7 separate regions of the Homo sapiens genome follow, and all the other regions are reported to be linked to region 2. Evidence: microRNA targets listed by miRTarBase, many of them from high-throughput screens and not tested one by one. Region 2 holds a microRNA gene; each other region holds the end of a gene's coding sequence.
The links. Region 2 holds the annotated microRNA hsa-miR-6848-3p (GUGGUCUCUUGGCCCCCAG, at 2,896-2,914, shown strand). A microRNA usually pairs through its seed, bases 2 to 8, with sites in the 3' UTR of a target mRNA and lowers its output. Matches are read on the target gene's strand: a 7mer-m8 pairs with bases 2 to 8, a 7mer-A1 pairs with bases 2 to 7 and ends in A, and an 8mer does both.

Region 1: miRTarBase lists TLR6 as a target of hsa-miR-6848-3p. Seed matches in the 3' UTR shown: 8mer at 1,181-1,188 and 7mer-m8 at 2,455-2,461.
Region 3: miRTarBase lists PCSK2 as a target of hsa-miR-6848-3p. Seed matches in the 3' UTR shown: 7mer-m8 at 2,249-2,255.
Region 4: the mRNA of PIGO is a reported target of hsa-miR-6848-3p. The part of its 3' UTR that is shown has no 7-base or 8-base seed match.
Region 5: miRTarBase lists DCUN1D2 as a target of hsa-miR-6848-3p. Seed matches in the 3' UTR shown: 7mer-m8 at 1,813-1,819.
Region 6: miRTarBase lists TTC31 as a target of hsa-miR-6848-3p. The part of its 3' UTR that is shown has no 7-base or 8-base seed match.
Region 7: the mRNA of LZIC is a reported target of hsa-miR-6848-3p. Seed matches in the 3' UTR shown: 7mer-m8 at 3,829-3,835.

The regions. Positions count from the first base shown.
Region 1 is chr4:38,823,069-38,827,470 of GRCh38, reverse strand. TLR6 (toll like receptor 6) reads left to right here. Exons shown (of 2, transcript NM_006068.5): 2 at 1-4,402. The coding sequence ends at 388. Among named protein-coding and RNA genes, the nearest start is that of TLR1, 20 kb to the right of the region's middle. RefSeq lists an enhancer at 3,565-3,734.
Region 2 is chr8:144,315,776-144,320,166 of GRCh38, reverse strand. It overlaps MIR6848 (microRNA 6848), which reads left to right and starts at 2,852; the gene lies at 2,852-2,921. DGAT1 (diacylglycerol O-acyltransferase 1) reads left to right here. Exons shown (of 17, transcript NM_012079.6): 3 at 1,099-1,139; 4 at 1,247-1,332; 5 at 1,416-1,468; 6 at 1,601-1,706; 7 at 1,805-1,906; 8 at 1,998-2,072; 9 at 2,150-2,253; 10 at 2,345-2,383; 11 at 2,455-2,496; 12 at 2,579-2,623; 13 at 2,722-2,834; 14 at 2,915-2,980; 15 at 3,058-3,145; 16 at 3,252-3,314; 1 more. The coding sequence ends at 3,613. RefSeq lists enhancers at 1-237, 2,654-2,903, 3,754-3,813.
Region 3 is chr20:17,481,193-17,485,611 of GRCh38, reverse strand. PCSK2 (proprotein convertase subtilisin/kexin type 2) reads right to left here. Exons shown (of 12, transcript NM_002594.5): 12 at 1,034-4,028. The coding sequence ends at 3,542. Among named protein-coding and RNA genes, the nearest start is that of BFSP1, 48 kb to the left of the region's middle.
Region 4 is chr9:35,085,377-35,089,795 of GRCh38, reverse strand. It overlaps PIGO (phosphatidylinositol glycan anchor biosynthesis class O), which reads left to right. Exons shown (of 11, transcript NM_032634.4): 10 at 346-416; 11 at 575-1,108. The coding sequence ends at 704. Among named protein-coding and RNA genes, the nearest start is that of FANCG, 7.6 kb to the right of the region's middle.
Region 5 is chr13:113,454,493-113,458,911 of GRCh38, reverse strand. It overlaps DCUN1D2 (defective in cullin neddylation 1 domain containing 2), which reads left to right. Exons shown (of 7, transcript NM_001014283.2): 7 at 804-3,093. The coding sequence ends at 883. Among named protein-coding and RNA genes, the nearest start is that of ADPRHL1, 3.2 kb to the right of the region's middle. RefSeq lists an enhancer at 1,964-2,894.
Region 6 is chr2:74,492,362-74,496,780 of GRCh38, reverse strand. TTC31 (tetratricopeptide repeat domain 31) reads right to left here. Exons shown (of 13, transcript NM_022492.6): 11 at 4,336-4,419; 12 at 4,034-4,135; 13 at 2,222-3,859. The coding sequence ends at 3,563. Among named protein-coding and RNA genes, the nearest start is that of LBX2, 5.0 kb to the left of the region's middle.
Region 7 is chr1:9,926,931-9,931,349 of GRCh38, reverse strand. It overlaps LZIC (leucine zipper and CTNNBIP1 domain containing), which reads left to right. Exons shown (of 8, transcript NM_032368.5): 8 at 893-4,419. The coding sequence ends at 951. Among named protein-coding and RNA genes, the nearest start is that of LZIC, 14 kb to the left of the region's middle. RefSeq lists enhancers at 38-537, 3,027-3,536.

The sequences.
Region 1 (4,402 bases), not on the chromosome of region 2:
TATACAGATTTGTCTTCATGAGAGAAACTTTGTCCCTGGCAAGAGCATTGTGGAAAATATCATCAACTGCATTGAGAAGAGTTACAAGTCCATCTTTGTTTTGTCTCCCAACTTTGTCCAGAGTGAGTGGTGCCATTACGAACTCTATTTTGCCCATCACAATCTCTTTCATGAAGGATCTAATAACTTAATCCTCATCTTACTGGAACCCATTCCACAGAACAGCATTCCCAACAAGTACCACAAGCTGAAGGCTCTCATGACGCAGCGGACTTATTTGCAGTGGCCCAAGGAGAAAAGCAAACGTGGGCTCTTTTGGGCTAACATTAGAGCCGCTTTTAATATGAAATTAACACTAGTCACTGAAAACAATGATGTGAAATCTTAAAAAAATTTAGGAAATTCAACTTAAGAAACCATTATTTACTTGGATGATGGTGAATAGTACAGTCGTAAGTAACTGTCTGGAGGTGCCTCCATTATCCTCATGCCTTCAGGAAAGACTTAACAAAAACAATGTTTCATCTGGGGAACTGAGCTAGGCGGTGAGGTTAGCCTGCCAGTTAGAGACAGCCCAGTCTCTTCTGGTTTAATCATTATGTTTCAAATTGAAACAGTCTCTTTTGAGTAAATGCTCAGTTTTTCAGCTCCTCTCCACTCTGCTTTCCCAAATGGATTCTGTTGTGAGCAAGAGTTTATATGGCTTCATGGCAGCAAGGGAACAGTCAACTTCAGCATCATATGCACCAGTCCTCGGAGTGCCCTGTGAATCATATTGGTCTTTGGGTCAGTGTCATCATTCTCTTCAAGTCTGGGGCTTGGGGAAAAAATTAGATCAGCTACGGCATATAAAAAAGTCTTTTGTTTCACATATGTGTAATAGCTTATTTAATTTTTTATCCTGCTACACAAATATGTAATTAACCAATGAGGACTCATGACTTGATAGTGTATGTATGTAAAGGGATATATGGACTTAATCATAAGCTGTTGAGGTGAAAGACGTGGATCCACCTGCTTTCCAAGAAAACTCGGCCAAATTTATTTGCAGCTGGATATTGAATGGGACTTTTCTGGTTGTCTTAGAATTCTGGCTAAAGGCTCAAAGCTGACGAAAGACAGTAACTGCACCAACATGATACTAGACACAGCCAGTCTGGACTTATCAAAAGAGCAGAAAGAGACCAATGACTCCCAGTCCGTATTATCCATCTCTAGAAGACTAGAGTCAAAAGCGTGATTAAAGAGTCATTAAGCGGAGGTTCTAGGCCATAGGGAGATTGCTTTGAATTTCTTGCAGACAAGTGTGAGGGACTCAGCATGGTAGAAGGTAGCCTGGCATCCCACTCCAAGACTGAAAGCTTGCAGAGTAACAGGAGCACACAGGTTCAGTGCAGCAGATGTGGTGTGGCTTGAGAATTCTTGGAAGAGCTTGATGAGTGTTTGCTGGAGTCCGAGGGTGGGCACTGGGAACACAGAGACTGGTAAATAGTGTTTGGCAAATACAAGTGCTTGATGAATATTTGTTGAATGAATAGATGAGTTCTTCCCCCCTGGGGAATTCAGGAGGTGAAAGGTTGGCTTGAGCACCCAAAATGGCAGGATGAGAGAAGAGAAGCACTGATAGCAACCTGCCCTCCCATTATTGACATGGTAAAAGGATGTGAATTTCTTCACATGGCTTTGACTATGGAAGAGTAGCTGGGCTTGCATTGTCATGACGGGATATCAGCCAACAGGGTAGCCTGTTGTGCAAAGAAACTATAGCAGTAAGAGGACACGGGGTTAGGCAGAAGAGGGGTTTGGGGTGGAGGTTGCTGCAAGAGGTCAGCCAGATAATGTGGCCCTGCATCATGGAACTGTGCAATGTGGGGTACACTCAAGGCCCTCCAATAACTCACAGATGTGCCCTATGAAAAAGCCAGCATTTGGACTCTGCCATAGCAGCTGGCAGGATCATGCTGGCCTGTCTGCCTTATTCAATAGTTAACTACAGGAAGATCTGCTCCTCTTTGTGTAATACCCTCTTCCCTTGCAATGGCATAGGGACATCTAGAATATAGAGAAGACAGAGACAATGGAGGAAGAGTAAAGAAACTGACTATATGCCTTCGTCATTTCACTGCAAGGAAGGCCAAGCAGATTTTTGAATGAGGTGTGAGATTGCTGTTAAATTGGACTGGCCTGGACATTTTAATCCCTTAAATAGAGGTGCAATGACTAAAGTGAGATTTGTCACTAAAATTTATGGTATCTGCCCAAGATTCAGGAGTGATGATGGGAGGAGATCCAACAGAACTTTGTTGTAAGGCAATGGTTAGAGAAAAATGAAGCCCTCGCTTTCTGGACTTAGTTCATTCAATAAACCAGTTTCGGCCAGGCACGTTGGCTCACATCTATAATCCCAGTACTGTGGGAGGCTGAGGCAGGTGGATCACTTGAGGTCAGGAGTTCGAGACCAGCCTGGCCAACATGGTGAAACCCTGTCTGTACTAAAAATACAAAAATTAGCCGGGTGTGGTGGTGTGCACCTGTAGTCCCAGCTACTCGGGAGGCTGAGGCAGGAAAATCACTTGAACCTGGGAGACAGAGGCTGTAGTGAGCTGAGACAGCGCTACTGTACTCCCCGCTGGGCAACAGAGTGAGACTCCATCTCAAAAAAGTTAAAAGAAAAAAAATCTGGTTTCATAATAGCTGTAACGAAATAAGCCTTAATGATATTTTATTAGCATCATCTTCTGTCTGCATTAGCCCTTCCTTGCTCTTCAGGAGAACAACATTTGTTTTCCTCCCTAGGCTCTATCCCAAACGGCACATTCTTCCACAACCCCTGTTGAACAGATTTTTTAAACTGTTGCCTAATCTAAAAACAATAAAAACAACAAACAACCACAGTAACAACAACGACAAAAAAAACTGCCACAGATTCTAAATAATCAGATCTTTTTAAATGGTATCAATGTTTCCCACAAAATATTGTTGACATTGAAAATATAGAATTTTAGCATTAATTTTGTTAAACCTACATCCCCTCGGCAGAGGGGCCTCCCTGCATCCCAGTGGAAAGTAGGTTCCTCACAGTCCTCTCCGTCACATTCTTCCCATTTCTTTTCTTCACAGAACACATCACTGTCTAAAATTATCTTGTTTGCTTAGTTGCTTACTCATCTTCTTCTTCTCTCCTCTGAAGTCTAAGCTCCAGGAAAAAGGGAGACTTCTCCACCTGTTCCCTGCCTCTCCCCAGTGCCGAGGGGACACTGTGCACCCCATTGTAGATGCGCAGTAAAAACTCGTGGGATGAGCAAATGACTCTGAAACGGTCCCATGCGGGAAATGTCCATGAAGTCCTGGATTTTATCTAAAAAGCCCAGGCAGGGGGGGGCGGGGGCGGCGGGGCTACAGTTCCACGCTGAGCTGCCTCCTGGCCGCTCGTCCCCGCCGCAGTGCCTGGGCGGCCCGGGCGCCCGACCTTGGCCGTGGACACCTTCGCGGTGGGTGCTGCTCCTCCCCATCTGCCACTGGAAGATGCTGGGGCGACCCGGCTCCAGGTTTAGCAGGACACTGAGAAAAGGGAATGGCTGCCTTTCGGAGGCTGGGTGAGCCCTTCTCTGTGCCTCACCTGCCCGCCCCACAGCGGCCCTGCACCTCGTCCCACGGGGCCCATTGCCCCGGTAGGATGCGCGCTTTTGTTTTGAGGGTCAGGCATCTTCCCTGCCGTCGTTTCTGGGAGGTTGAAAAATTGATCCAGAAAGACCTAAAACAAAAAACAAAGAAAAACAAAAAAGCGAAAAGGAGGCAAAACAAAACAAAAATCCATACAAATAAAGTATCTCCTCCATCCATGTTTGCACTATTCCTTCTCATTCCCCCGTCCAATGCCACAATTTGGTAAGTTTGCCTCAACACGTTTTCAGTTCTTAACACTGTGATAAGAATAAACAATAGATCCCGTAGTAAGATGACCTGTTAAAAGGAATGGGGCATGGCAGAGATGAGTTTGGATGAGGAAAGGTGTCAGTCCGTTTGGGCTGCTCTAACTAAGTTCTGAGATGTGTGTTAGGTAATTTTGACTTTGGTTGAACATCATAGAGTGCACTCACACAGACATAGATGACATAGCTTACTACACACCTAGGCTTATGGTATAGCCTGTTGCTTCTAGGTGATTGTAACACAATGCTTAGTATTTGTGTATCCAAACATATCTAAACATAGCAAGGGTATGGTAAAAATATGGTAAAGAAGATAAAAAATGGTACACCTGTATAGGGCACTGATGTGGGTTGGCTGTGTCCCCACCCAAATCTCATCTTGAATTCCCACGTGTTGTGGGAGGGACCCAGTGGGAGGTGATTGCATCATGGGGGCGGGTCTTTTCCTGTGCTGTTCTCCTGTTAGCGAA
Region 2 (4,391 bases):
GCTGCTTGTTGCATTCCTTCTGTGGCCTGGGCCTGGAGGTGGGTACCGTCCATTGGCAGCTTTGGCTTCTGCCTGCTGTCAGCCCTCGGGAGAGGCCAGTGACAGTGTGGGCCACGTGTCCATGCAGAAGGCCTGTGTGTCAGCCCTGCGGCCGGGGGAGGCGGGGCAGTAGCCCTTGTGTCTCTGAAGCAGTCTTCTCTCTCATGAAGCCTTCCCTGACCACCCAGGCAAGACACCCTCAGTGTTCCCTTGCCAGCGACCCTTTTCCCCAGCACCAGTTCACTACCGCATGAGGCCCGAGCTCCGGGTGGTCAGCCAGGTCTGCGGCATTGGGGCCCAGCTTAATGGAGGTGTTGGTAGTGCTTGTAAGATGGAGGAGGAGGTTCCTGTCCTTGCAGAGGGAGGCCAAGCACCCAACTCCAGGCTCGTCCCAAGAGCCTTATTCCATGGGGGCTCAGTCCTGGGAAGTTGCTTTGGAGCCAAGTGTCCAAGGCTTAGAGGGCGGCAGGAAGCAGAAGAGGCAGGCGGGGCACAAGCCCTGGGAAGCACTCCAGGCCCAGCCCCCCTTGCGACACAGCTGGACACTGCTCCTGCAGAGAAAGAGTAGACAACTCCCCCTCTTCAGCCTTGGCCACCAGTAGGGACTGGTTCCTTGGGGCTCAGCCGTGGGCAGGCCTCCCTGGGCAGGCCTGTATTCTGGGGCTGTCTCTGGGGTGTGGTTGGCTGTGGGAGCCTTGGGTCCCTCACTGGCTCGGCTCAGCAGGAGGGATGTGAGCAGATCAGCAGCTGGTCTTTCTGCTCCTGAAGACCCAGGCGTCTGGCAGGGTTGGTTGGTCTGGCCGGTTGGTTCCCTCCATGTGGGACCGTCTGGTGTGATGGGGACAGGGAGGGACTTCCCCTTACCCAGCACTGGTGTTGGCTGAGGTGGGTGCTGAGTCTCAGAGCTTGGCATGGAGACCAGACAGGGCTGGGTCTGCAAGCCTGAGGCTGCCGCCCTGAGCTCGGGCTGGGACGTGCCCAGAGGTGTTGGGAGGATCTGGGGTGAGTACCCTGTGGCCAGGACTAAAGGGGCTGCACCCTCCTGTCCATCCCTCGCAGATCTTGAGCAATGCCCGGTTATTTCTGGAGAACCTCATCAAGTGAGTGCCTTTGCCAGGTCCCACCCCTGCCCCACCCATGGCCTGTCCAGGCCCCGCCCCACAGCCCCACCTGCCACCCACTCAGACCCCCATCCCTCCACCCCCAGGTATGGCATCCTGGTGGACCCCATCCAGGTGGTTTCTCTGTTCCTGAAGGATCCCTATAGCTGGCCCGCCCCATGCCTGGTTATTGGTGAGCTGGGCTCTGAGGAGGGCCTCGGGTGGGGATCAGGCTGACGTGGCCCTAAACCTGCCCCTTGGTGCTTCTGTCCACAGCGGCCAATGTCTTTGCTGTGGCTGCATTCCAGGTTGAGAAGCGCCTGGCGGTGGTAAGCAGTGCCCCTCACCTCCGTGTGTGCTCACCCTGCTGTGTGCGCTCCTGGGAGGAGCTGCTCCCCAGGCCTGGCAGCCCTCTCCCAGGCAATGGGAGCCCTGGTTGAGTGCTCTGCTCCCCACTCCAGGGTGCCCTGACGGAGCAGGCGGGACTGCTGCTGCACGTGGCCAACCTGGCCACCATTCTGTGTTTCCCAGCGGCTGTGGTCTTACTGGTTGAGTCTATCACTCCAGGTGCGCCCCCATCCCACCCTGCCCATCTGTCTCGGGCCAGCCACGGGCATGGCCTCCGGCTGTGGCGCTGTGGAGGCCTGAGTCCACCTCTCCTGCAGTGGGCTCCCTGCTGGCGCTGATGGCGCACACCATCCTCTTCCTCAAGCTCTTCTCCTACCGCGACGTCAACTCATGGTGCCGCAGGGCCAGGGCCAAGGCTGGTGAGGGGCTGCCAGGGGCTGGGGCTGCCTGCTGGGGGGCTGGGCAGCAGCAGGGCCCCACCAGCCCCCTCCCACTCTGCTGTGCTCGTAGCCTCTGCAGGGAAGAAGGCCAGCAGTGCTGCTGCCCCGCACACCGTGAGCTACCCGGACAATCTGACCTACCGCGGTGAGGACCTCTGTGGGCCTGAGGTGCGGGGGACAGGCTGGGCCTGTTCTGGTACCAACCCCCCATTCCCATTCCAGATCTCTACTACTTCCTCTTCGCCCCCACCTTGTGCTACGAGCTCAACTTTCCCCGCTCTCCCCGCATCCGGAAGCGCTTTCTGCTGCGACGGATCCTTGAGATGGTGAGGTTGGGGGCTGGGGGCAGCCACTGGAGGCTAGGGGGCCTTCTGGCTAGCCAGGGCCTCAGCTGGCTGCTCTCTGTTTCCCCCCCAGCTGTTCTTCACCCAGCTCCAGGTGGGGCTGATCCAGCAGGTAAGTGGGGTAGGGCAGGGTTGGGTGTAGCTGGGCATGGCTGGGAGCTGACGTGGTGCCCTCCTTTGCAGTGGATGGTCCCCACCATCCAGAACTCCATGAAGCCCTTCAAGGTGAGTGGCTCAGGTGCTCTTGCAGCTGGGGTGGCTGGGGAGTGACCAGGAGCATGGCTAGCTGAAGGGCTTGTTTCTGCAGGACATGGACTACTCACGCATCATCGAGCGCCTCCTGAAGCTGGCGGTGAGTGCGGACAGGTGGCGCATGCACAGGACAGGAGGGGACAGTGGCATGTGGGGGAAGGTTCTAGAACTTGGTGCCCACCCCCACCTCCCTGCCAGGTCCCCAATCACCTCATCTGGCTCATCTTCTTCTACTGGCTCTTCCACTCCTGCCTGAATGCCGTGGCTGAGCTCATGCAGTTTGGAGACCGGGAGTTCTACCGGGACTGGTGGTGAGTGTCCCTGGGGTGTCCCTGGGGGCTGGGATGGGCCATGGTGTGCTCTGATCCCCCTGTGGTCTCTTGGCCCCCAGGAACTCCGAGTCTGTCACCTACTTCTGGCAGAACTGGAACATCCCTGTGCACAAGTGGTGCATCAGGTAGGTGGGGTGTGTGTGTGTGTGATGTGGAACATGGCTGTGAACCTGAACCGCTTTCCATGCCCCCTCCTCTGCAGACACTTCTACAAGCCCATGCTTCGACGGGGCAGCAGCAAGTGGATGGCCAGGACAGGGGTGTTCCTGGCCTCGGCCTTCTTCCACGAGGTCAGTGCTCTGGGGGGCATCTTGCCTCATCCCTGGGCAGGGGTATGCCCACAGCAGGGACGGCTGACACCCCACTCCCTGGCATCCTCTCTCCCTCCCATCTCAGTACCTGGTGAGCGTCCCTCTGCGAATGTTCCGCCTCTGGGCGTTCACGGGCATGATGGCTCAGGTGAGTGACCCCCACGTGGCCTCCTCACTCGCCCAGTTACCCCGCACCTGAACCCCTCGGCTGACCCTCCCCATGCCCAGGGACCCTGAAGCCCCCAGCCCTGTGGTCACCATGGCCGACTGACTTGGCCCCTCACTCCCTAGATCCCACTGGCCTGGTTCGTGGGCCGCTTTTTCCAGGGCAACTATGGCAACGCAGCTGTGTGGCTGTCGCTCATCATCGGACAGCCAATAGCCGTCCTCATGTACGTCCACGACTACTACGTGCTCAACTATGAGGCCCCAGCGGCAGAGGCCTGAGCTGCACCTGAGGGCCTGGCTTCTCACTGCCACCTCACACCCGCTGCCAGAGCCCACCTCTCCTCCTAGGCCTCGAGTGCTGGGGATGGGCCTGGCTGCACAGCATCCTCCTCTGGTCCCAGGGAGGCCTCTCTGCCCCTATGGGGCTCTGTCCTGCACCCCTCAGGGATGGCGACAGCAGGCCAGACACAGTCTGATGCCAGCTGGGAGTCTTGCTGACCCTGCCCCGGGTCCGAGGGTGTCAATAAAGTGCTGTCCAGTGACCTCTTCAGCCTGCCAGGGGCCTGGGGCCTGGTGGGGGGTATGGCCACACCCACAAGGGCGAGTGCCAGAGCTGTGTGGACAGCTGTCCCAGGACCTGCCGGGGAGCAGCAGCTCCACTGCAGCAGGGCGGGCATGGCCGGTAGGGGGAGTGCAAGGCCAGGCAGACGCCCCCATTCCCCACACTCCCCTACCTAGAAAAGCTCAGCTCAGGCGTCCTCTCCTGGTGCTACTCCTGCTGGGTGTGCGGGAATCGGCACTCTGGCCCTCAGTGCAGGATGGTCAACTTGCACCCACCGTGCTCAGCTTCAGCTTGGGAAGAGGTCGGCCCTGGGTTTGCGGGAAGTGGGCTCCAGCCAGGATGGCCCAGGGATGGGCAGTCCACAGGGCCTTTCTGGTGTGGGTCTGGTGAGCCGAGGGGCTACGGTACACAATGGCTATGTCCATGGCTATTCGCCTTGGGGCAGGGCTCGGTTTGGCAGCCTCTTTCCTTCACTTGGAACCTGGGCAGCCAGGT
Region 3 (4,419 bases), not on the chromosome of region 2:
TATTAAGGTCTTTTTCTAGAATAGTCTGTGGTCTATGGGGTAAGGTACAGCCAGTTTGTAATAATGTTCATGGTACCATCCATGAAGAGTGATTGCCATGTTAAATCGGTTCTTAAGAACATGTTTTAAGGGAATGTCAAGCACTCTCTGTAGTGGAGACTCTAATGCTCACCAAATATTCCCTTAGTTGTCACAGATTTCCCAGTTGCTTTGCATTTAGCCAGGGCTATTGCCCAATACTGGCCAGTGGGCAATGGGCAGAAGCGATGCATGTGTCTCCTTCAGGCTAAACATAGAAGAGCAGATGAATGTCCTCCTTGGGTTCTCTTCTGCATGGTGATTGTAGCAGCCTTGTGCTATGATTACAAACCATACGGTGAAACAGCCTGGATCCTGAGTCACTGCATGGAGGTCTGTGGCTTTGGGGAGTCACCTGAACCTTCACTGGAATTTGTGTGGATGATAAATAAACCTTTGTTGTATTAAACCACTGAGATTTTGAGATTGTCTGTTACTATAGCATAACTTAGTCTAGCCTGATTAATATATTTTAGAATAGTGTTTCTAAAAGATTTTTGACCATCACTCACAATGAAAAATGTATTTTACATTGTGATCCAGTACACACACTCAGACACACACACGTGTGCACACACACATCTGAAACAAATATTTCAGGAAACAATACTTATCCTTATTATGCATGATTATTCTATTCTATTCTATTCTATTCTATTCTATTCTATCCTATCCTATCCTGTGATTTTCTTCTCTCCTACTGTATTCTAAATTACTCTATTTTATTAAAAACTGACCTCCTAAATTGATTTTACAACCCACTAATGGATGTAACTAGAGTTTGAAAAATACTGCTGTAGATAATAATTTGTGTATGATTTATATGTTAATTATAAGTCTTTTATGCATACTTAGTAAAGCAGGCTCTTTAGATCTCTCTTTGGCAATTTTTAAATTATCTGTTCCTAGAATGGATGAAAGTATTTTCATGTACAATATAGCACATCTCACATAATTTCTGGAGCATAATGTTTTATTGTTGAGCCTCCTAATTTACAACATGTCTTTTGAAATTTGCTTATAAAATTTTGTCACAGGGAGCAACAATGTTAACCTAATTATTATTCACTTATTTTCATTTTTTAAAATAAATGACTATAAATAACTGTCTCTTCAGTTAGGATCAGGGATATCATAAAAACATCACTAGCGAGACATATTTTAGTATTAATACTGATGCAAAAAATGAAATAGAGACCAAATATTTATATATATAGCACTATATATATTTTTATATATTGTATACTCATATCAAAACTTGCCATTTCTCTTAAGTAGCTGATAAGTTGCTTTCTAATTTTATAAATTACACCACACCTGTGAAAATATGGACAACTATTTTATATTTTTGCTGCTATATAAGACATTTAATGTTTATACAGAGAGCTGAAAAATTACAGAGGTGATGCAATGGGAATTGATGAACATTTTCACCTGAATTTCCACTGGCCTTTTTCAGCCAGAATCATCTTGATATTCTCTGAATATTCTTTTAGAAATGAGTATGGTATCTGTTTCTTCAATAAATACACATACACACATTATAGGTATATGTGTATATACATTTATACAAGTGTATGTATATATACACATATATACACACATGTATATAGTCTACATATGTATATATATTTCTGTGTGCACTTATACACACATGCACACATAATGTCCTTTGGTTTATTTTTAGACCATTAATGTGAAATGAATTTTCGATGATTTCCATTTATTTTTTCTTGAAATCTAAACTGGTTTAAAAAGACCTTTGCAACAAGTAATAAATTTCTTTTAAAAAATCATATTATTACACTTTAAAGCATGATATAGAGAAGGTCACAAGGTGTTAGAGAAGACAGAAATCCATGCCAATATGGGAGAAAAGAAAGCAAATGGGGTTTTCAGATTTCTCTCTTAAAGTGGCCACCTTCAGGGAATTGAACCTAGTGCTCTGTGTTGCTGGCTTGAAGGAAAGGTGCTCCAGGCTAAGCTCTCTGCTCCCACAGGAAGGGAGATGGTGCCTGGAGAGGCTGAAGACAAAGCATTTCTTGGGAATGGATGTGCATTGGGACTGGGGATGAGAAGCAATCTCTGGGTAGGTCACTTTGGTAATGTCTAGTTGGGAATGGAGTGGTGACTTTTGGGATTGACCATAACCTTCGGGTTGCATGTTAAATGGTCTCAGGGACTGCTTAGTTGCCGAGAAGGTGACTGTGTGCTTTCCTCACAGAGGTCTTCTCTCACCTCCTTCAGGCCTCAGGTTCCTCTGGGATGAATTGCATGGCCCTCTCTTGGCAGAAGAGGCTCCATACAACTGGAGAACTATGTGAAGATAGCGCTCGCATCTTCAAACGTGCCCCTTTCACCTCCCATGACTCTTCCGGGACAGAGGCCTTTTTCCCAACACATTAATGACATCAAACTGTGGGGGAGTATGAGATTTCTCTTCCATTATATTACTTGGAAATCAAAGCCCACATCTGTGTGTGTAAAGCTGTAAAAAAAAAAAAATACTCCTGTCGCCTCTCACTCAGATCAGATTGAGACACCTCAAAGTGACTTAGGAAAAGGGACATTCTTGTTTGAAAAGCTAGTAAACTACTCTTCACCAGGTGTGTTGCCAGGCTTGTCTTAATTTTTTTTCTCTTTTGGGTAGCTATGTGAGGAGCCCCAGAAAATTGGGGCTGGGATGAACTCTATACAAACTGAGAAAAATTTGGGCTGCTCTAGCGGATTTTAACATAACTCAGAGCAGCAGCTGGTGAGAGCACAGCCACGCTCTGTAAGTTTTATATTTGCCACGCCGGCTGAGTAGAGTGAATTATCTTGGCATTGGTAGTAAAATATCCAGCACTCATGCTTCCTGGATCTCTTTCCCCATGCAGTAACTAGGGCTCTCTATGAATGGCATCTTTTGAATCACATCACCTTAATCTACATCCCTGGTAAATCTCACTAAATTCAAAACATCGCTCCCCAAAGGATTTATAGCACAGTGTCTCCTGTGCTTTCAGAGATGTGGCGCTCACACCCTGTCCTCAGCTTTGATTTTCTTGTTATGTAACAGCCCCTTGTTTGAGACCATGGACAATTGTTCTTGGAGTCACTCTATGTGGCTTTTAAAATACGTTCTTTTCTCAGAAACAAAAAAAAAAATGAGGGGAAAGCTGTCCCAGTTTTTTTTTTTTTTTTTTTTTCAGGATATCACCCATTTGAATGACAGAAATAAAGAATTTAGAGTCACACATAGGACATGGATGTTGTTGGGAACGCTATATTTGGGGCATAGAGTAAAAAAGATTGTTTCCATTGTAATGAAAATAATCATTGACAGTGAGTGAAGCTTCAGATTAAGAAGACGGAATTGCCTGTACGGGTGATGGAATTGCTAGGTGCCTGCCTGAAACGTGGAGCGAGGACAGAGGCGGAGCTGGGGAGGGAGGGCGGTGGGAAAGGCGGATGTGCAGCGCTAGTTCTTGTTAAGGATGCTTTTCAGGCTTCTCTCCACGGCTTCGTCCAGCTCTTCCTCCAGCTCCTCTTTCTTGGACATGGCCAACTTGGACTGGTAATCCCGCACCACCTGGTCGATGTACGGGGCACTCTGAGTGCCATGCAGCATCAGGGTCCACTCCTTCAGCACCCCCTTCTGCGGGGCGCTGCCGACAAATCCCAGCTCCAGGGTCCAGGTGCCTCGGGCGTCTTCCCCCCACGTGTGAGTGGTCATGAAAGGCCACTTGTCAAAGCCCACCTTGGAGTCGTCATCCCTTGGACGCCGGCTCAGCAAAATGGACTTGGTGCCCATAGGGGAAGTCATGTTGATGTTCAGGTCTCCTCTTCTGGTTGCGTTGACCGTGATGACAGCCTGGACATGCTCCAGGTAGCGGACAAAATTTTCCTTCCCCTCACAGGCGTCGGTTGTGAGTGTCAGCACCAACTTGCCAGTGGATGGTATTTTCCTGAGGGCAGAGTGAAGAGGAGATAGGATAAGCAGTGGTGGGTGCACCTTACAAGGGATTTTGAGGGCAGCTTCAGGTGGCGGAAAGGGCAAGGGCTTTGGGGTTGATCAATCAGACCTGGGTTTAGTTCCCACACTGGCTGTGTGAGCCTGAGTAAGTTACTTATCTCTTTTTTTTTTTTTTTTTTTTTTTTTTGTCTTTTGAGACAGGGTCCCACTCTGTTGCCCGGGCTGGAGTGCAGTGGTGTGATCTCAGCTCACTGCAACCTTCAGCTCCTGGGTTCAAGTGATTCTCATGCCTCAGCCTCCCCAGTAGCCAGGGTTACAGGCATGTGCCACCACGCCTGGCTAATTTTTTGTATTTTTAGTAGAGACGGAGTTTCACCATGTTG
Region 4 (4,419 bases), not on the chromosome of region 2:
CTGAGGTGATAGCCAGGATTTTCTTCCCAAACTGTGGTCATGGATCCTCTTCCTTTCCTCCAGAGGCAGATGTGGCACTGATATCTTCCTCCATCCTGGGGGCACAGCCTGAGTGTTAGCATTGCAGATGGATACTGACTTGCCCAAAGTCACATAGTGAGTCAGTGCTTGGGGCAGGGCAGGAAGTAGGTCTCCTAACTCCTAGCCCAGGACATGCAATATTTTTTCCACTGACATGCACTATTCTCCTGCTTCCATTTTTTACAGGGGCCTATAGAAACTCTCCTTTTGCTCCGCTTCCTCCTCTCCTTCACAAGTAACGTGGCCCCTCCTCTCCTCCTCTAGATTCTGGCCTGTGCCTTGGCAGCCTCCATCCTTCGCAGGCATCTCATGGTCTGGAAAGTGTTTGCCCCTAAGTGAGTAGATTTGCTTGAGAAGTAGAGGTGGTGGGGAGGGAGAAACTTGGAACAAAGTATGAAGATCCTAAACATCCAGGATGGCCAAGGTTTTGCCTCTACAGGGAAAAGGCAGTAGACCTACTCTGTTGCCTGAGATTCTCCGCCTTTCTTTGCAGGTTCATATTTGAGGCTGTGGGCTTCATTGTGAGCAGCGTGGGACTTCTCCTGGGCATAGCTTTGGTGATGAGAGTGGATGGTGCTGTGAGCTCCTGGTTCAGGCAGCTATTTCTGGCCCAGCAGAGGTAGCCTAGTCTGTGATTACTGGCACTTGGCTACAGAGAGTGCTTGAGAACAGTGTAGCCTGGCCTGTACAGGTACTGGATGATCTGCAAGACAGGCTCAGCCATACTCTTACTATCATGCAGCCAGGGGCCGCTGACATCTAGGACTTCATTATTCTATAATTCAGGACCACAGTGGAGTATGATCCCTAACTCCTGATTTGGATGCATCTGAGGGACAAGGGGGGCGGTCTCCGAAGTGGAATAAAATAGGCCGGGCGTGGTGACTTGCACCTATAATCCCAGCACTTTGGGAGGCAGAGGTGGGAGGATTGCTTGGTCCCAGGAGTTCAAGACCAGCCTGTGGAACATAACAAGACCCCGTCTCTACTATTTAAAAAAAAGTGTAATAAAATGATAATATAATTATGTGTGTCTGAGATGTGGGGGAGCCCCACTGTTCTATAGGGGTTGTGAGGAGGATCAGTCTCTCCTGCCACCAGGCACAGATGAGATCAGTCATCTTAGGAAAGCCTGGCTGCACCTGAGAACCTTTATGAAGTGGTTGGAGTTGTCTGAATTCACTGCCTCCACCTCTTCCCAAATCAATCCTATTATCCCACCGCTATTTTCCTTTGCCATGCAACACATTTTGTTAAGTTCCTGTTCTTTGTCTGATAAAGAGAGAAGACTGAGAAGACAAGCCCAGGCATCATGCAGCACCGACTTTAACTGTCTGAAGCCCCAAATAGTGCTATGCCCCCGCTCCACTGGGCCTTTTCACTATAGAACACCCTTTGCCCTTCCCTTCTGTGGAAGCCTCCCTTGTTTCCCAACCTGTGCCACTCTTTATCAGATCTACATGCCCATCTTATGTAGCATTCCACCTTGTCCCATTCATTATTCCTGACTTGAAGCCAAAATTGTGTGAATCCACTGGTTCTTTTCTCATGTGTATGTTTTGTGCCCTCTGTTCACCCCAGCACTCCTGTCATGTTTGAAATGCTGGCATGAAATCCTCCTAGAGATGTCCATCAAAAGAGTTGGGAAGAGGCCCTGGAGAGAAGCATCAGGACTGGGATTTGAGGTTTGACAGTACCTAGAACAAGAGGAGCTGATACCACTGAAAAACAGAACAGATGTTAAAACCATGGGATAGCACCTACTTTTAGCTGGCATAAAGTAGAGAAGCTGAGTAGTAGTGGTTGTGAAGTATAAACGTTCACTGCTGTGGTAGGTAGCTAAGGGAAGAATTGAAATTATTTTTATTGTTACTATCATTTTAAAGACATATTTTTGCTCTATTGTCCAGGCTGGAGGGCAGTGGTGCAATCATAGCTCCCTGTAGTTTCAAACTCCTGGGCTCAAGTGATCCATCTCAGCCTCCTCAGTATCTGGGACCATGCCTGGCTAATTTTTAAATTTCTGTACAGACAGAGTCTTGCTACATTGCCCAGGCTGTTCGTGAACTCCTGGCCTCAAGCGATCCTTCCACCTTGGCCTCTCAAAGCACTAGGATTACAGGTGTGAGCCACAGCACCTGGCTAAGTTCAGATTATTAATGGCCAGTGGTCCCTAGTGTTACAGATGCCAAATAGTAAGATGATGAAAAGTATGGTTCAGCTGGGTGTGGTGCCTCATGCCTGTAATCTCAGCACTTTGGGGAGCCAAGGCGGGTGGATCACCTGAGGTCAGGAGTTTGAGACCAGCCTGGCCAACATGGCAAAACCCCATCTCTACTAAAAATACAAAAATTAGCCAGGTGTGGTGGTGTGCACCTGTAATTCCGGCTACTCAGGAGGCTGAGGCAGGAGAATCGCTTGAACCTGGGAGGCAGAGGTTACAGTGAGCCAAGATCACGCTACTGCACTCCAGCCTGGGAGACAGAGCCAGACTCTCTCTCAAAAAAAAAAAAAAAAAAAAAGGGATAGGTTGTTAACCATGGTAGAAAGAGGTTTAATAATGCAAGGGGGTGAAGTTGGCCCCAGCTGGCCTGTAAGATGAATTAGAAAAACGCTTCTCCCCAAGTCTGGTGGACACAACTCCCAAGCATAGTTCGGTGAGCAAATGGTGTCTTTTTGAGAAAGGGGAAAAAAACCAAAACAAAAACCTTTCCTCCATCCCTAGCACCCATGGAAGGATTTTAGGCCCTAGTTCCTCCACTTCTCAGCCAGGTACCCTGCACTTTTTGCAGTAGCCTCCTTGCCTGGAGCCTAAGGCTAATTTGCTGATCTGCCAACCACTGTCTATTCTTTCTCCTGGTGTATCTATAAGATTCTATTAGATAAAGACATTAGTACATTGATTTACGCTATTAAAAATTATTTCTAGCCAGGCACTGTGGCATGTCCCTATAGTCCCAGCTACTTGGGAGGCAGAGGTGGGAGGATCACTTGAGGATAGCAAGACTCCGTCTCTACAAAAATAAAAAAATTAGCCAGGCATGGTCCCAGCTATGTAGAGGCTGAGGTGGATCACTTGAGCCCAGGAGTTAGAGGCTGTAGTGCACAATGAATGCACCTGTGAATAGCCACTGCACTCCAGCCTGGGCAACATAGATCCTCTCTCTTTTAAAAAGAAAAATTATCTTATCCCTCCCTTTTCCTTGAAATCAGAGTCCATTCCACACTAACTCAATGATTCTTTTTTTTTTTCCTTTAATTTTTTGTAGAGGTGGGGGTCTTGCTGTCTTGCCTAGGCTGGTCTTGAACTCCTGGCCTCAAGCCATCCTCCTGCCTCGACCTCCTCAAGTGTTGGGATTGCAGGTGTGAGCCATTGCACCCAGCCCTGATTCTTTTTTAAAAAAGCTTTATTGAAATGCAATTTACCATAAAATTTACCCATGTAAGGTGTAAGATTTAATGGTTTTTGTGTATTTACAGAATTGTACAACCATCACCAGAATCAATTTTAGAACATTTTCACCAACCCCAAAAGAAAATCTACTGTTTAGATATCACCCTCCAATCCTCCCCAACCCCTGGCTAGCACTAATCTGCTGTTTCTCTATATATTTGCCCATTTTGGATATTTCACAGAAATGGGATCATAATAATATGTGGTCTTTTGTGACTGGCATCTTCCACTTAGTATAATGTTTTCCGGTTTCATCTATATAGCAGCACACAGCAGTACTTCATTCTTTTTCTTTTTTAAAATTGAAGTAAAATTCATATAAAATTCACCATTTTAAAGTGTATAATTTAGTGGCCGTTAGTACATTCACAACGTTGTACAATTATCATCATTATCAATTCCAGAATGTTTTCATTACCCCAAAAAGAAACCCTGTACCCTTAAGCAGTCATTCCTTCTCTTCTCCCCCTTAACTCCTGGTACCACTAATTTGTTTTCTGTCTCTATAGATTTGCCTGTTCTGGACATTTCATATAAATGGGCTCATACAGTAGTGCCTTTTTCTGTCTTATCTTCCTTTACTCAGCCTAATGTTTTCAGAGTTCATCTATGTTGTAGCATGTATTGGTACTTCATTCCTCTTTATGGCCAAATAATACTCTATTGCATGGATATACCACATTTTGTTTATCCATTCATCCATTGATAGCCATTTGGATTTACACATTTTGGTTATTATGTAATGCTGCTATAAACATTTGTGTATAAGTTTTTGTTTGGACATATGTTTTAATTTCTCTTGAGTGTATACCTAGCTGTACACTGAGCAACTGCTGGGTCATAAGGTAACTCTGTTTAATCTTTTAAGGAACTGCCAGTTTGTT
Region 5 (4,419 bases), not on the chromosome of region 2:
CCCCCGTGTTTAGGACTCTGCGTTGGAGGGCCTTTGGAGCCTGCTGTGTGCTGGGCACGCTGCCACCTTAGAGAGGGATGGTCTCTGGGTGGAAGGCCTCCCCTCTAGGCTCCCACCCACTTTGCTTCCTCCCTGCCCCCTCGGCGGGCAGTGATCTGTTCTGGGCCCTGGCGCCGTGCCTTTAACGGGTGGTTTACGTGTCTGTCTGCCTGTTTTAGCTTCTGCTTCTCTTTGTGTCCTCCACACTTTGCACCGTCCCTAGATCAGGGGCACCCAGTAAATGCTTGTCAAATGAAAGAAGGGATCACTGAATCTCATTGACAGAAGCGCGGCTTCCAGGATTGAGGCAGCAGTGCAGGAGCTCAGAGGGCACTCAGGGCTGCCGGGGTGGGGAAGGGAGCAATGGGGTGGTCCCACTTGGGAAGAGCCGCAGGAGGGAGCACCCCCTGCTGGCAAGAATACCAATGACCTGAGGAACATGCCTCCTGCTCCGCGGGGGTCCATTTAGCTCCCTTCCTGAGCAGCTGGTGTGACTGCCTGGGGCACTCACCGAGCATCCGGGGCCACTGTGAGCCCACAGCCCCCTAGACATGCCAGCACACACACACCAGGGCTCCCGACCTGGCCGTGCTAGGGCGAAAGAACTGGGTAACTTGGGCTGGTTCATTCTGTGAAACACAAATGGTGTGGACCTCAAGTCATTTGGGTTCTTGAAGTGTAAATGTTGGATTGATGTGTGACTCAGTGCTTTGGAGATAAAAACGGTGCTCTAACGGGTTTTCTGTTTGCTTGCTTTCCTTTAGGAGCTTGGCCCGTTCTTATAGATGATTTTGTAGAATATGCACGGCCAGTAGTCACAGGTGGAAAACGCAGCCTTTTCTAGGCAGCAAGTTAAGCAGGAGTAAGATTATGAAATGATTTGTATCCTGCAAGGAGATTGCAGTCAGTTCCTGGGTGCATTGTCGCTGATTCCAGAAGTCATTCTTGACCAGCCATGAAACCAGAGGCGCCATCCCATTCTGCCGGAGGACAGCCAGCGGCTGCTTTGTGGACACCGCAGGAAGTTCCTCGGGACACGGCTGCTTTGGGATGTTTGGAGATTTGTCATCATAGCTTTTGCGTTAGGAAATTTCTGCATGATTTTTTAATATTTACAAAATACTAAGGTAGAGCCATAGCGCCGCCTGTGGGACCGCAGAGCATGCTGCGTAGCTCGCGCGTCAGGCGAACCAGCGTCCGGCAGCGTCCCGCCGAATGACGTTGCGGTGGCACTGGCAACACGGCATGTGTCCTCTGCAGGGCGCTGCGTTTTTATACACGTCAAAGCTGTTAAGAATGTGCCCTAAGGGAGAGGATCTTGTCGTAGAGTCTAATGTTTTTTAAAATTGGTGCCAGCAATTCACGATTTATATTTTTTGAATTACCAAATATCTAGATTTACCAGCTCTATTTTTGTTTTCATTTTCTCTAGACATTCATCTGAAAATCATTTTATGGTTCTCAATCCCCATGTAGCTTTGCATAGCAACGGCACACGTGGCACGATTCCAGCAGAGTTTATCTCACACCGTTTATATATCACTGGGCCTCTCTTACTTAAATATTATTTGACCTGCCTGAGAAGCTTCATAAAGTATGTTTTTTTAAAATATATTTTAATTACATTTAAAAAGACATTTTTCCATGAAAAACATTTATTTTATGAGTGATGAATTATAGATTTTAAAATCAAGGCCGGGCGTGGTGGCTCACACCTGTAATCCCAGCATTTTGGGAGGCCGAGGCAGGTGGATCACCTGAGGTCAGGAGTTTGAGACCAGCCTGGCCAACATGGTGAAACCCTGTCTCTACTAAAAATACAAAAATTAGCCGGGCATGGTGGCACATGCCTGTAATCCCAGCTACTCAGGAGGCTGAGGCAGGAGATTCGCTTGAACTCAGGAGACGGAGGTTACAGTGAGTCGAGATCGCGCCACTGCACTCCAGCCTGGACGACAGAGTGAGATTCTGTCTCAAAATAAATACATACATACATACAATAAAACCGAATGAGCTGGTTCTTTCCATCCTCTTGTGGTACCCGTAGTGCCCAGCATCCAGACCTTTGTGCCCCTGTGCACATTTGGAAGCTAAAATGTACATCGTTGTCTGAAAAAACCCAACCCCAAAACCTTCATCTGATTGGTGAGCTGAAGTCTGTCCTTGCACCATGTTATCATCTGTTTCTCGTGTCCGCCTGGTTGAGGAGGACCCACGAGTGCTGCCGAGGTGTGGAGGGCTGGTATTGAGTTGTGGACATCACTGTTGACCCTACCTCACGTGCCGAGACTCTCATGTCACAGGCGTGCCTTGCTGCCCCCCTGCAGCACTGTGCAGGACGTGGACCAGCTGGAGCTGCTGCCCAGCACAGAGGAGAGTCGCCGCAGATGACCTAGCTGCGGTGTGAGAGAGCATGGCCCAGACAAGCAGCTGGGTTGGCTTCTGAGAACAGGACTTACCCTGGGCTTCAGGAACATCTGATGGCTGAGGTTAGTGTGCTTGGAGGCTGCAGGACGAACTGTCGATGTTTCTTAGCAGAGATGGTCACAGAGGGCAGCAGGGACAGGACTGGAAGGGACCTGCAGCCTGCAGACCCCGCCTGGCCCCCGCTGGCTTCTGGCTGGTCCAGTGATGGGCAAGTGACAGACCTTCCCCAGGCTCTGCTTCCAGAACTCTAATGGGAAACTGGGCCTGTCTACCTTTAGAAGTCTTCGATTCTCAGAGAGCATTTGTCTAATACAATAAAAACTGGCATTAATACAAACCTCAAAAACGTGAGCGTATCTTCCAGGCTTCATGGATTCTTGACATGTAATTGTTTTGTTCAGAAAAGTTTATAGAATTCACATAATTCTGTATAAACTATGGAGATCCACAGTACTTTTTTGTTTTTGAGATTTAAAGTTCTAAGGGATTGTCAATAGATATCAAAATATTAATCATTGGACAAAGGCTTTTCCAAAAATTGTGGGTTTTTTTCTTCTGTTGTATCCATTTGAGTCCTGCATGCTGTGAAATGCTGAGAACAGAAGCATTAAATTGGTTTTTCTCGGGCGTGGTTTCCTTTCGATTCTCCTCAGCTGCAGGGATGTCTGCCTATAGGTGTCAGCATCCACGTCATTGTCCCAGGATGAGAGAACAGCCCCCAGCTAGCAACCAGCGGGCAAGCCCCTGCCCCCGTGTGTGGCCCGCCAGCCCTGGCCAGGTAACCAGGTCCTCAGGTACCTTCTGTCATTGCGTTGCCTCTCAGCGGTGCACCGTGCACCTGATGGGGTGGCTCATGTGAGGAATGAGAGATCTCACAATAGGCAGGATTTACGGGAGTGTGTCGGGGCAGGAGGTCATGTGTGCCAGCACAAACTGCTGGAAACCGTCCCTTATCGGAGGCAAACGGCCAAGCACGGGGGTCTGAGGATCATGTGCTACCTGCCGATTCACGGTGCACCTGCCAGCGTTCCGGAATCAACAACGCCAGCTCCTCTCAGTGACATTGTACATGTCATTGTGTTATTTTCGCTTGAAGTTTATATCCATTTTAGACCTCAGGCTTCTTGGGGCCAAGAATAAACTTTCTTCTGATCCTTGTTGCTGTGTCCACAGTTTCAGGTACAAAGTAGGGGCTCTGCAAATATTTGTTGGATAAACGAGCTAACCTTATCCCGTCCTGTTTGCTGAGGGAGCCAGCTAGTGCTCTTGGCAAAGGTTTCCGCCGCCTGCGAACTGAAGCGCTCAGCGAGCGGGCTGTGTTAATCCCCTCAGCAGCACACGCTTCGGCCCCACAGTGCAGTTGTGCCTAAAACAGGTGAGAGTTTGAACGAAGGGCCGCCCCTCCTGTCTGTCTTGTTTGGATAGGGACCCTGCGTGCATGCTGTTTTTTGTTTTGGAGTTTTGTTTGTTTGTTTGTTTGTTTCTGAGACAGAGTTTTGCTCTTGTTGCCCAGGCTGGAGTGCAATGGCGTGATCTCGGCTCACTGCAACCTCTGCCTCCTAGGTTCAAGTGATCCTCCTATCTCAGCCTCCCAAGTAGCTGGGATTACAGGTGCCCACCACCATGCCCGGCTAATTTTTGTATTTTTAGTAGAGACGGGGTTTCATCATATTGGTCAGGCTGGCCTCAAAATCCTGAGCTCAGGGGATCCGCCCGCCTCGGCCTCCCAAAGTGCTGGGATTACAGCCATGAGCCACCGCGCCCGGCCTGCATGCTGGTTTTGAAGTTTGTTTCTGAATCTCAGGATCATGCTAGCTGGCATGACTGTGCTGATGGCTGCCTCCACCAGCAGACAGTGGAGGGTGAGGTGAACTCACTGCTTGAGATCCTCCGTTTTAACAAGTGCTGATATAACGCCAGGCGGTTAAATGCTTCCTACTGTCTCGCTGTACA
Region 6 (4,419 bases), not on the chromosome of region 2:
TTGTCTTTCCTGCTTCCCTTCTCTCCTGTCAGTCCTCTGGCTCTCTTCAGACTTTCTCCTGCCTCTGCCTAAGTGTGACAACCCTACTTTCAAGGAAGTTCCATGGGTTCAACGGGGGTCAGCTAGGGCCTTAGTTGCAGGTGGAGGGCCCAAGAGAGAATATTCCTTGGAAAGTGAACAAGGCTGGAAGGCAGAAGGGAATCTGGCATTTTCAGACAGTACCACTTATTAAGCAGTTCCAAGTGCTTTGCAGGTATTAATCCTTAAAATAACCCAACAGGACAGAGACTTTTCTTTCCATTTTAAGGATGAGACTGAATTACAGAACCCTGAGGAAACTTGGCCAGGTCACAGTTTGTAAGTGGTGGCACAGGGACTGAGCTGTTTGCTTGTCCGACTCAGGAGCCCATGCTCTTGGTCTCTATAAAGGTGACTGAGCCTAAAGGAAAGAAGCAAAGGATTTACAGAGAAAGGGGAGGAGAAAGGGCCACAGGTAGGGACTTAGGCATTGTACTTTAGAGCATGGTCCCTGGAGGTTTTAGAGAAGAGAGACAAGAGACCATTGTTTAGGGTAGGCCAATCTGGCTGTGGGCGCAGGTTGGATCAGAGACTGGTAGAGACCTGAAAAAGGGAGTATATATCTGGCCACTGCAAAAGGTAACAGCAGAGAGAACTCAGGGCCAGACTTGAGGTGGGGCTGGGAGGTGGTCACAGAAGAGGAATCTGCGATTGCCCCAGGGATCAAGGATTGCATGAGTCAATGACAACCTAGCAAATGTGGGCAACTGGAAGAAAAATGGCAACATGGAAACAGACAGTGACCACTGGTGTGGAGCTAAGAATCTGTCAGCCATTATGCATATGCAAAAAAATAATTCTTTGCAACTGCATTGCCCCTTCAGTACTCCCTTCTAAATACTGCCTCTCTGGAACATTTCCAGTAGGGTGATCAACTCTTTCCCATCTGCCCAGCATTTTCCAAGTTTTGGCATTGAAAGTCCCTCACTCCAGAACATCCCTCAGTTCCAGGAAAACCAGGATGGTTGGTCACTCTACTTTCCAGTCCTGGGAACTCAGAACTCAGGCTGTTGGGTCAGACCCCTATTAATTAGGAGGGTGAAAATGGGGCAAAGTGTCAGGAGTCACGTGACTCTTGGAGAAGCTACAAGTCCAGGGCAGGCTAAGGTACTGGGGAGGGAACATTTACTTGAGAAGCTAGAACAAGGAGCCAGCTCAGCTGGAAGGCAAAAATACCATTGAGTAGTGGTGGGTGGCCTTTGAGAGGTCAGGAGCCCTACAGACATCCCAAAAGCATGCAGGTCCCTGCTCAAAAACAGGAAAGCCAGATGGGCAGGCCTCTTATGGAACCACTGTAATATAATCACCCCTTGGACAAACACAACCACCTATGCCCATCCTGCTCCCCAACCAGGGGTGAGCAAAGAACTCTCAGGGCAAATCCTTCTAGTTAGGAAGGTAGGGTCCAGTCAAATTAACTGGCTGAGTCATAACCTCTCTCCCCATTGAGGTTTCCCAAATTCTAGCCCAGCTAGCACTGCCACCTCTTATACTGAAGACTTGGACAACAAAACTCAAACCTGTCCCACCAAAATGGCCTCTGGATGGAGGTCTGCTCCGCTAAGCCCCGCCCTTGAACAGTGTGTATCAGGATCACTTGGTAGGTTTATTGAAACACAAATTGCTGGGCCCTGCTCCCATGGTTTCTGATGTAGGTCACTGCAGGGGGCCTGAGAAATTGCATTTCTTTTTTTTTTTTTTTTGAGAGTTTTGCTCGTTACCCAGGCTGGAATGCAATGGCGCAATCTCGGCTCACCGCAACCTCCGCCTCCCAGGTTCAAGCGATTCTCCTGCCTCAGCCTCCCGAGTAGCTGGGATTACAGGCATGTGACACCACACCTGGCTAATTTTGTATTTTTAGCAGAGGAGGCGTTTCTCCATGTTGGTCAGGCTGGTCTCAAACTCCTGACCTCAGGTGATCCACCCATCTTGGCCTCCCAAAGTGCTGAGATTACAGGCGTGAGCCACCGTGCCCAGCCTGAGAAATTGCATTTCTAGTAAGTTCCTGGATGATGCTGATGCTGCTAGCCTAGAAAGCACACTTTGAGAATCCAGTCCCAGAACTCTGGATTTTGTGAATTTCAGCACCAATTCACCCACACTCCTCTCTTCCTATTGTGGGAAGCATGACTATGTAGGACAGTTGCAGACAAAAAGTGGTTTATTTAGCACCCACTATGTACCAGGCACTTGGGAGGTATTTTCTCACACTTTCGCTTTCCATCCTCACAATATCCCTTATGAGGTAGGGACTACCCTCATTTTTACAGGTGAGGGAACTGAGGCTTAGATGTTGACAGACCCATCCAAGGTGACCCAGCTGGTAATGGTAGACTTCATCCTGCTACACAGTATTTAAGGGGCCTAAACCATAAACAATTTTTAAAAATTTGGGAAAGTCACACATAAAGGAGATGTTTCAATACCTTCTCTCTCCAGGTATGAACAGTATTGAGCAAGACCCACAGGGCAGCAATAATCATTTATCCTGATGAAAGGTTCCTCTGTGAAAGGTAAGGGGGTTGGGGGAGACCTAAAGCCTTCTGCAGACCCACATTTAAATGAGCTGACAGTCCCAGCAGGACTACAGAGGAACCAGCTAGGGGAAGCTGCCAGGATCTTAGACGTGAAATTAAAAGGAGATCATGCTTCTTACCCAGGAAGTGGGGAATTCAGTTGACCCTTGAAAAAACTGAATAAATTAACATGGGGAAAGGCTAATTACCATGCCCAGTGCTGGGGTGGAGAAACAGAGTGGCCAAGGTTGTAGCAGCTTGGGCACCTGCTGAGGCCCCATTCAGCGGGAGAGCCACCAGTTGGGAGTGTGGACATGTATGGCCCTACCAGCTCTAAGCAGGAGCTGGTAAGGGACTTCCCAAATGCAAACCCTTGGTGAATATTCTAGCAGTGAGAGGAGGTGAGCACCAGACCACTGGACAAGAGAGGTCAGAGTCATACATAGCAATCTGGACAGGAAATGGCATGAGGAGCTGTGAGTAATCTGGGGGCTATGGCTAGAAAAACAGGGCACGAGCTGGGGCTGAGAAGAGGTGAGCATCCATCAAGCTGAAAGGTGGGACTCAAGCCCCCTCAGCACTGTGACCCCGTTCCTGTACACCAAGCTCTAGTTGGTGAATGAGGTCCCCTGGACCAAGAGGAAGAGAAAGGCCCAGATGCTTTCTCACTGTCTCTGCTATAGCCTAAAAACCTGAACTTTTCTATAGTTCCCTTCTTGAGCCTTGGTGGGTTTTATTTTTCCTTACTGCCTCCAGAAGAAGCTTGAGAACCAAAGGATGTTTCAGTGGATGTGGGGCTCCTTTCTCTCATCAGAAGCTTCCCCATGGCAAGAGGAATGACTGCCAGGGCATCATTAACTATGGATCTAGAGAATAAGGTCTCAAAATATGCAGTGAACTGTCACCACACTATGTCCCCCACCAAGGGATATATACATGGCCCTGCCCTATGAGGGACCGGTGCCCCCTCATCTGGCCTGAGACAGATGCTGGAGCCCAAGTCCCAGGATGTCCCAGCCCTTTGAAGGGTCCTGGGGCTTGAGAGGATGGGGCCTTCTACTCTGAGTCTGGGAGAGGGGCTGGTTGGGGTGGCTTCGGTGACATGAAGGATAATGCAAGAGTGGAGACAGGCCAGGGGACCTCAAAGCAGTGCTTCGAGGGCACCTGAGGGAAGGTAGGCCTGAGGGTGCCAGCTCAGCATGGGGAAGTGGCTGGAGGGCCCCAGGTGACAGAGGTGGTGCACAGATTCCTCCTCGCTGACCCTGCTGAGAAGGGAGAGAGAAGGGCACCAGATCCTTCTTTTAAGCAGGAGAGCCCATGCCTCTCATTCCACCCATCCTTCCCCGCCCCCTCCTTAGCCACCTGAGGCTTGGTATTGCAGTCCCAGCCAATTCTCCCTGATACCCGCCTCAGCATGACAGTGTGCCTGGCCCCCTTACCAGTGTGAGGTGGAGAAGGCAAGAGCGGAGCTCTCGGGCTGCGTCAGGCTGGGACCCACCTCTCAGAGTTTCCTGAAACACAGCAGCTGCCTCTCTGAAGCGCTTTGGTCCCAGAGGGATCAGAAAGAAAAGATTAGGTGTCAAGGTGCTTAAAAGTACCCTTTCTAAAACTGGCCCCTGCTCCTAGTACCACAACCATTGTGACACTTTGGTACTAGAAGCTTATCTAGAAAGTCAACATAGACCCTCTCCCCACTCCATCCCACTCAAATCTCTCCTGTTTCCAGCCCCAGACCTATTACCTGTAGTCCCATCAAGGCCTTGCCCAGGCGGAAGAGGCCCCGGGGCCAGCCAGGCCGTAGGGTAAGGGCCACCTGGGCATCAGC
Region 7 (4,419 bases), not on the chromosome of region 2:
CGGAGCTTGCAGTGAGCCGAGATTGTGCCACTGCACACCAGCCTGGGCGACAGAGCGAGACTCATCTCAAATAAATAAATAAATGAATAAATAAACAAAATTAAAAAGAAAAAAAATTAGCTAGGTGTGGTGGCATGCACTTACAGTTCTAGCTACTTGAGAAGCTGAGGCAGGAGGATCACTTGAACCCAGATATTTGAGGCTGCAGTGAGCCAAGATCATGCCATTGTACTCCAGCCTGGGTGACAGAGCAAGACCTGTCTCCCCGCAAAAAATATTTCTTCTTTCTTTATTTTTTTTTTTCACAGAAATGTTTTAAAATAAATTTTATGGCCAGGTGCGGTGGCTCAAGCCTGTAATCCCAGCACTTTGGGAGGCTGAAGTGGGTGGATCACCTGAGGTCAGGAGTTCGAGACCAGCCCGGCCAACAGGGTGAAACCCTCTCTACCAAAAACACAAAAATTGGCTGGGCATGGTGGCACGTGCCTGTAATCCCAGCTACTAGGGAGGCTGAGGCAAGGATAATTGCTTGAACCCAGGAGGTGGAAGTTGCAGTGAGCCGAGATCGCACCACTGCACTCCAGCCTGGGCGACAAGAGCGAAACTCCATCTCAAAAAAATAAATAAATAAATAAATTAAATTTTACATATTATATTTCATAGCTAGAATAAGGATTTATAACTAATAAGTCCCCCTTTGTAGCTGGATTGTTTGTGCAGAGGGAAGGAAATTGGGATGGCAATGGGAACGTGTAGGGGTTAATACACTGATAATGGAGGCTAATTATATTTTCTGTTTTAATATCTATATGATAGATTTTTTCCCACTTTACCAGGAATTGCAACTGCACTTGAAATAATCTTTTTGTTTATTATGTGTCTTTTTTCTTAGGCTCTGGAGACAAAATTCTTGCTCTGGCAAGTTTTGAGGTTGAAAAAACAAAAAAATGACATGGTGCAGAAGCTTGTAACATTGATCACATTCTTAATGTAAATGGTGTCTTTCTTCTGGGGTTTTCAGTTATTGCAAAGAAATGAAGAGATTCTGGAAATGCATCAATAACCTAAGAAAAAGCGACATAAAAATATACTTATGGCTTGTGTTTATGCTCTTCATCATTGTGCGTTGTGTGCGGTTACCTGCTTGAGTGATCCTGAACTTGTTGCGACAGAGGGACTCACTGGACTCTGTTCGTTATGATTTGTCTGTTTAAGAGAGAAAACAAAGTGGACTTGATTTTTATTAAGGCTGTTTGTTTTTAAGTGTTGATAGTGAACGAAAAGATGTGAAGTAATGATATTTTTCTGCTTACAACTTATCCCCACTCATTGGAGTGAACAGTGACGCAAGCTCAATAGACTTCATAAGTGTTCATAGAATTTTACAATTCTGAGTGATCTTAGAAATCATTTCTGTTTTTACAAACAAGGAAACTGAGGTCCAGAAAGAGCAAGCGACTTTGCTTAAAGTCGCATCAGAGAGCTGAGGGTAAGACTCAGGTGTCCTGACTCCCAGTTTAGTATCTTTTGAATTTTATTTCTGTACCATTTAAAAAAAATAATTAACACTATTTGTGCAAGTCAGTGTTTTTGAAAATTCAGTGTCCCAATAAAAAGTGGACTGCACACTAAGGGACCATCCCCCAGCCTGTAAGCTGTCTGTATTAATGGGGCCCGTTGTATCTCGGAATTTTGAGGTTGGAACAATGGGAGCCCTGTTGAGCGTTTCCTAAAGTGACTTAGCCGCCTGCGTTGTTTGACCAGGGAAGCAACAGGAAATGGCAGCTAGAGGCCCTCCCTGTGCGTGACCTCTTGTCACACTCAGAGGGGGGTAACTGTCAGCTGTTATCTACTCTTCAGGTTTTGGAGAAACACAAAATAAGTTATGAGGAAAAGCAAATTTCTCTCCTGAGTATTTACATGTCTCTGTATGCTCAAATATGCAGATGTGTCCCTATGCGTGTATATTAGCTTATTTTTTAGGCTCTAGCCATTTTATATTCTTTCATGTGCTTCTCAATATTCTTTTTCTTTGCACTTTATACAAATTAAAAGCATTTTTAAAGCTTCTTCTGTACTGTAAACTACTAGGTGCTTTGCCAACCAGACAGATTAGAGGACCTCCGCTACACTGATGCCTTATTTGGAACTTAAAAGAGGTGAAATTCATATATCATAAAATTCACCATTTTAAAGTGTACCATTCGTTGGCAGAACATTTACAGTGGTGTGCAACCATCACTACTCTCTAGTTGCAGAACATTCTTATCACCCCCAAAGGAGGCCCTATACCTATTAAGCAGTTAGTCCCCATTCCCTTCTCCTCCGACTGCTAACAATAGCCACTAATCTGCACCCTGTCTCTGTGGATTTACCTATTCTGGATATTTCATATAAATGGAATCATATGATATGTGACCTTTTTATGTATCTGGCTTCTTTCACTTAGCATAATATTTTCTTTTCTTTTTTTTTTTTTTTTTGAGACAGAGTTTTACTCTTATTGCCCAGGCTGGAGTGCAATGGCGCAATCTCAACCTCCGCCTCCCAGGTTCAAGAGATTCTCCTGCCTCAGCTTCCCAAGTAGCTGGGATTACTAGTGTGTACCACCACGCCCAGCTAATTTTTGTACCTTTAGTATAGAGACAGGGTTTCACCATGTTGGCCCAGCTGGTCCTGAGCTGACCTCAGGTGATCCAACTGCCTCGGCCTCCCAAAGTGCTGGGATTATAGGTGTGAGCTACCACACCGGGACATCATCATATTTTCAAGTTTAACCAACATTATAGCATGTATCAGTACTTTATTCCTTTTTATGGCTAAATAATATTCCATTGTATGGATATCATATTTTGTTTATCCGGTATCTGTTGATGATTTGGGTTGTTTCCTTCTTTTGGCTATTGTGAATAATGCTTCAGTGAACATTTGTGTACAAATATTTGTTTGAATACCTGTTTTCAATTTTTTTGGGTGTACACCTAGGAATGGAATTGCTGCGTTTGTTGTTGTGTTGTTGTTGTTGTCGTTGTTTTTTGAGATGGAGTTTCACTCTGTTGCCCAGGCTGGAGTGCAATGGCGTGATCTCGGCTCACCACAACTTCTGCCTCCCAGGTTCAAGCGATTCTCCTGCCTCAGCCTCCCGAGTAGCTGGGATTAAGGCATGCGCCACCACACCTGGCTAATTTTGTGTTTTTAGTAGAGATGGGGTTTCTCCATGTTGGTCAGGCTGGTCTCGAACTCCTGACCTTAGGTGATCCACCCGCCTCAACCTCCCAGAGTGCTGGGATGATTACAGGCATGAGCCACCATACCCGGCCTGAGCCACCACACCCAGCCTACGTTTGTTTTTTAAGCCATAGAAGATTCTTCCCACCAGTCGGGCACAGTGGCTCACACCTGTAATCCCAGCACTTCAGGAGGCCAAGGCGGGCGGATCACAAGATCAGGAGCTCAAGACCAGCCTGGCCAACACAGTGAAACTCCATCTCTACAAAAATTAGCCAGGCATAGTGGCAGGTGCCTGTAGTCTCAGCTACTTGGGAGACTGAGGCAGGAGAATCACTTGAACCTGGGAGGCAGAGGTTTCGGTGAGCCGAGATGGCGCCACTGCACTCCAGCCTGGGCGACAGACTGAGACACGGTCTCAAAAAAAAAAAAAAAAAAAAAAAGAGGAAGAAGATTCTTCCCTTACCCTGCAATAGTAGACCAGAAAAATTAGGAATATCTTGAATTTGAAAGGGACCTAATGCCTGGCACAGTGGCTCACGCATGTAATCTCAGAACTCTGGGAGGCAGAGGTGGGCGGATCGCCTGAACTCAGGATTTGAGACCAGCCTGGCCAACATGGTGAAACCCTGTCTCTAAAAAAAAAAAAAAAATTAGCCAGGCGTGATGGCATGCACTTGTGGTCCCAGCTACTCAGGAAGCTGAGGTCAGAGGATCACCTGAACCTGGGAAGCAGAGGTTGCAGTGAACTGAGATCACGCCACTGTACTGGCTGACAAAGTGAGACCCCTGTCTAAAAAAAAGATAAAGAGAGTTACCTGAATCTGGAATCCTTAATCTTGGTTTTCCTTAAACTTTCTATAAGTCCAGCATCTGAAATATTTTGTCAATTATCACATTAATGTGTTCATTTTGTAAGTAAGAGTACTCAATTTAAAATGATCTTACTTTAAAAGTGGCCTAGTTTGCAGTGCCCAGCAGGACACTGACAGTCACAGCTGTGTGACTTTTTGTGGGTTACTTAATTTTTTTGAGCCTCCTTTTCTCTTCTATTCAATGAGGATAATAGGGCCTACCTCATAGGATTATTATGCATTCCCCTCTGTTAATGCACGTAAAGTTTTTACTTGGAAAACTAACTCACCATTTAACAACCATTCTAAGCACCATAGGATATATTTTGTTTCACAA